Regions from separate parts of the Homo sapiens genome. Here region 1 is linked to region 2. A link means that fine-mapping ties the variant in region 2 to the expression of a gene that starts in the linked region. Tissue or cell type: whole blood. Region 2 holds a variant in brackets; the other region holds the start of a gene. All regions are shown on one strand. Distances are from middle to middle.

Region 1 (2,684 bases), 61 kb after region 2:
GTAGCAGAGTCACTCTTGGATGAGATCCATAAAACCCTGCTATGATCACCTCCTTTGCTGCGGAATGTGGGGAAGCAGTTGGCAACTGAGTATGGAGGACCTCTGTCAAAACTGAGACAGAAAGAAGTGCTATTTAACATCTAGTCACAAGTAAATAATGTGGGTTATAATCTGGGCTGTAGGCTGGACGTGGTGGCTCATGCTTGTAATCCTAGATCAGGTGGGAGGATCGCTTGTGCCCAGGACTTTGAGACCAGTCTGGGTAACACAGCAAGACCCTGTCTCTACAAAAAAATTTAAAAACCGGGCATCATGGCGCATGTCTGTAATCCCAGCTACTCAGCAGGTTGAGGCAGGAGAATCGCTTGAACACAGGAGGCAGAGGTTACAGCAAGCCGAGATTGCGCCACTGCGCCTGAGCGACAGAGTCAGACCCTGTCTCAAAGAAAAAAGAAAAGAAAAAAAGAATCTGGGTTCTGCCATTTATTTATTTACTCAATTTTTTTTTTTTTTTTTTTTGAGACGGAGTCTTGCTCTGTCGCCCGGGCTGGAGTGCAGTGGAGCGATCTCGGCTCACTGCAACCTCTGCCTCCCAGGTTCAGGCAGTTCTGCCTCAGCCTCCCGAATAGCTGAGGCTATACGCGCGAGCCACCACGCCTGGCTAATTTTTTTGTATTTTTAGTAGAGAAGGAGTTTCACCGTGTTAGCCAGGATGCTCTCCATCTTCCGACCTCGTGATTCGCCCGCCTCGGCCCCCAACGTGCTGGGATTACAGGCGTGAGCCACTGCTCCCGGCCTATTAACTCAATCCTTAGAAAAACAAATGTGGCAAAGGTGGAATCATACAACATATGGCCTTTTGTGTCTTACGATATTCATTTTTGCATCTGAATGTTCAAACTAAATAATATCTACCTTGTGAGGCCATCTGAATCACTTAGGATGGTCCTTGGCACCAAATTTGCCTTCAAAAAAGCATTTGCTTCATTTAATTTCGATTTATTCACGAAGGACTAAAGGACACTGCAAGGGCGGGGAGGGAGTGTGCGCCTGCGCTCTGCGCCTCCTAGAGGGCAGTCAAGGGCTTCTGGCTGACCCGAGCGGAGATCTCGCGAGACTGTCAGACGTATGGCGAGAGGTGTGGGAGGAAGATTGTGTTGTCGCGAGAACTCTGCCTTTGGGCCGTAGGTTAGTGTGGGGCCGTGTCTCAGTCCACCCAAGGTCTCCTCGGATCGCCTGGAGAGGCACTCGGACCTGGTAAGAACGCTGTGGGCCGGGTGGAGGCTCGATGACCGCTGGCCCGCTGGGCCCGGGCTTGTCCGCCCCTTCCCGACCCGACCGACACCGGGACCGGTCTGCCTTCTCCTTCCCTTCCCTCCCCTCCACACGCCAGGCCCGGGCACCTCTTCCTGCCTGCCCGCCGGGCCCGGGCCTGTCTTCTCCCCTTCCGGCCACACGCCGGGCCCGGGCCTACGTTCTCGCCTTCCCGCCACACGCCGGGCCCGGGCTTGTCTTTTCCTCCCCGACCCTCCTCGTGCCCGGCCGTGGGCCTGTCCTTTCCTCCCCGACCCTCCTCACACCCGGCTCGGACACCTCCTGCTCCCCGCCGGCCTTCCCCTCTCTTTAGGTGTGACAGCTCCAAGTTTCCTGTTTCTCTCGCCTCTTGCTTGGATGTGGGGCGAGGCGAGGTCTGTTTTGCCGGACGGGCACAGAACATAATCCATTTCTAGCTTGTCAGGTGGAAATGCAAAGAAGATATTGGGTTTTTTTGGCCCTCTGTGTGCCAAACACATACTGTCACATTTAATTCTCCCAATAATCCCGAAAAGTAGCTTGATTATCTCTGTTTTACAGCTGAGAAGAGTAAGGCTTGCTCATTCATTGGTTCATTCCACCAGCAATCATTTATTTGGTGCCTGTATGTTCAGGATGTTGAGGATAGCAATGAAAAAAATGGACACCTAATTCTCATGGAACTAAATTCTTGTTGTGGGGAAAACAATAATCATAATCTTACGTGGCACGGGATTTAACATGGAATGATGCCATCAAGAATGGCAGAAGTAGAATGACAGAAGTCAGAGTGCTGAATTTATCTGACCCCAAAGGCAGAGCTTTTTTACTTTTAACTGTGCCTTTTTGTGTCACTTTCTAATCAGGGTCGGGTTCACCACAGTAATTGCCTTTTGGATGGACTTAGCTTTCCACCACGCACTTGGTAATTTGGAACTAAGTTTATAGAGACTCTTGAGTTACTTATTGGAATGAGGATGGCACAGGAAGTCATAGTTGGCCCATTTTTATACCGAGATCCTAGTGTGACATTTCCAAACTTTAAAGTACTTGAGACCGTTTGAGAAAGACTTACCCTAAGGATGCAGTGGCTTAGGCAATTTACTTGGTTTTCTCATTTGAAGATTTGCTAGCTTGCAGATTTGTTCAGATAAGTAAATGAGATTATGTATGTAAAGTCCAGCACAATAACGTTCCTTTCATTTTCTCCTTTCCTGCCTTCCAGGGAGCCTTTGTCCTTGGGTCTCTAAGGAAAATCCTACTCTTTGAAAGTTTTGTGGTAGTTTTTATCTAAATAAATCTCTACAATTACATTATTACCTTTGTGCAAACAGGCATTTCGGAAATGGAAAAACATGTTGAGCTATGGAAGGGGAGGAAGATGTCCTTCT
Region 2 (2,684 bases):
TGAGTGTGAATGTGAGTGTCTATTGGTGTGGGGGGAGTATGCAGAGGTGGCAGTGTGAGTACTTGTGTACAATTAGTGTGTTGTTACCTCACAACAATAAGTTTAACCCTAAAGCAAGAAAAGACATGTGTGAGAAGCTCACAGGAAAACACTAGCAAATGGCATGGAGCAGCAGCTAACCCAGACCACAGGGCAGGAGCAGCCAGGGCTCCTCCCAGGAAGGCCAGGCAGGTGCAGAAGGTGAAATAGCTGTGAAATTTACCACATCAACAAAACGGGAAACAGGAACCAAGCGGTTATCTCAGAGGATGAAGAACAAGAAGTGGGGGCGTCAACATGCCACAGCACCCTGGGAGCAGAAGGAAACCTCCATAGCCCGACAAAGGTGTCCACACAAACACCCTCGGCTCACCTCAGTCCCACAAGATCAATCCCAGCATCTGTCCCTACTGTCTGGAATTAAGGGTGACCTCATGCCATCTGGGTACCCAGCATGGGTGGTGACAGCCTTGTGTGGTCCTCTGTGATGACCCCTGTCTGTCCTGATCTCCACCTGTGCGCACTGGGACTCCGCATGGCCGGCATTTATGCAAATGCGGCTGCTGGAGAGGAAGAGAGCCCTGGGTGTCCTCCCTCCATGGGGACAGCACGAGACTGGGTGCTGCTGGCCCAGAGCAGCAGCTGGGTTCTGGCCTCCCAGTTCCTCACTGCAGGGTGCCCTGGCAGTAGGCTGTGAGGACAGACACACCGTCCATGTCAGCTCTGCTCTCCATGGGCACACGACCAGGAGCAAATTGTCCAATGTCAGCGAGCTCCAGAGGTGCCTCCCATGAACAGAAAGGATGCTGTCAGGCCTGTCGTGAGTCCCAGGGCACTGAGCTGTGCAGGGACTGGCACAGGGCTGGGAGCTGGTAGGTCCCAGAAACAGGAGCTGTGCTGACACTTCCATGATTGGTCCTGGGCTCTGACCCCACTCACCTCTCCCCGATGCAGAGCTGAGGATGGGGGTGGAGTAGAGAGAGCTCCCCTCCCACTTGGGGTCTCTTTCTGCTGCTCCTGGTTTAAAGCTGCTCAGTCGTGCAGCCAGTGTGCTAGCTGTGCTCCTCTGACGATGTCCCCTGGACATGCACAGGCTGTGGCGTCTGAGCAGTCCTGTCAACCCCAGGTGAGGA[T/A]GTGAGTCGTCACTCTTCCCTGGTGGCAGCTGAGTTGAGGTGACAGGTGCCCTCTGCCCACCAGCTCAGCCCTCTGCCTCTGCTCACGTGGCCCGGCAGTCACAGCCCTGACCTGTCAGCTGTTGGCTGACTTGGGCAAAGCTGCCCCACATGGAGGGTGACAGTCACAGCAGGGAAAGGCCAAGGCAGGAACCTGGAACCTAAATGCAACAGAATAAGCCCTCTCAGCAGGCTGCCACCAAGAAACCAGGAGGGCTCCAGGGAGCCCAGGAAGGAGGCCAGGGAGGGAGGCACGCAGCCCAGACTCCCCCATTCAGTCCTAGGCCTCATATGCAGCCTGGCAGAGGCCTCTGCTGGGCTCACTGCTCCAGGCCAGTCCTGAGCCCATCCCCCACACATGGCTGGAGGGTTTTGGCAGGAGCCTCCCTTCTAAGCCTGGCAGGTGTCTGAGGCTCTTAGCAGAACCCCCAGGCCCTCCAGGAGCCACTTCCTGTTCTGGGCGCCCTGTGCAGAGGTGGGACCAGGTGGGGCGTAGGCACCCTGCAAGCCCTGCCTCACCTTGAAGGGCCGAGCCCACCTGTCCTTCACAGCCCTGTTCATAGGGCACCTCATCCTGGAAGCCTTCCCTGATGACCAGCCCCTCTGACTCCCTGCAGCCCAAGGGCTTGGTCTGTCCCTCTCATCAGTCACTTGTCACCCAGGATGTATCATGACTTCTGATTGTCTATGTCTAAGCATAATTTTCTTCTTTAGTTATTTGGTTTTCTTCCATCCTTTATTGTTGAAATTTTCAAACCTATAGGTGAGTGGAAAGGATTGTGCAATGAACACAAACACACCTATATCCACCACTGGGATTTTACAGTGAATGTTTGCCCATGCTCCTTTATCTCTCTCTCTCTCTCTCTTTTCATCCATCCACCTTGCAAAAAAGGGAAAAAAAAATGTTTGCAATACGTAGTCCTAACACAGCCTAGAATGTAATTTGCAACCACCCCGATTATGAAGCTTTGGGGCAGCCCTCAGTCCTGCTCAGGGTGGCCGAGTTGGGCTGACCAAGGGGTGCAGGCCACAGGCCCAGTTGCTCCCTCCCGGGCACACTGAGCCCAGTGTCCGGCTGGCCAGGGCCCTTTGGACACCTGAGCGAGGAAGATGTTGAGAGTGTTGCCTGATAGCATCAGACTTGGAAGCAGCTGCTGTTGGCCTTAGTGGTGGGAGAGCACCCGATGCTTGCCCTGAGTGGGGCCAGGTCTGGTTGCTCAGCACAGGATACCAAGCTGGCCTTTCCTGCTACCGCTTTTTTTTTTTGAAACAGAGTCTCATTCTGTCACCCTGTCTAAAGTCCAGTGGCATGATCTCGGCTCACTGCATCCTCTGCCTCCCAGGTTCAAGCAATTCTCCCACCTCAGCCTCCCAGGTAGCTGAAATTATAGGTGCCTGCCACCATGCCCACCCAGCTAATTTTTTTGTATTTTCAGTAGAGACGAGGTTTCACTAAGTTGACAAAGCTGG

Evidence for each region. PIP is the estimated chance that this variant, and not a neighbour inherited with it, causes the effect.
Region 1: it holds the start of NCOA4, and the variant in region 2 is fine-mapped to the expression of NCOA4 in whole blood (TOPMed, PIP above 0.99).

What each region holds. Positions count from the first base shown.
Region 1 is chr10:46,029,099-46,031,782 of GRCh38, reverse strand. It overlaps NCOA4 (nuclear receptor coactivator 4), which reads left to right and starts at 1,160. Exons shown (of 10, transcript NM_001145263.2): 1 at 1,160-1,257. LOC105378287 (a long non-coding RNA gene) reads right to left here and starts at 1,008. Exons shown (of 3, transcript XR_945923.4): 1 at 916-1,008. RefSeq lists an enhancer at 1,115-1,184 and a silencer at 1,545-1,634.
Region 2 is chr10:46,090,237-46,092,920 of GRCh38, reverse strand. No RefSeq gene overlaps it. Among named protein-coding and RNA genes, the nearest start is that of MSMB, 45 kb to the right of the region's middle. RefSeq lists a silencer at 1,088-1,382. The variant T/A (reference allele first, on the strand shown) is at 1,173.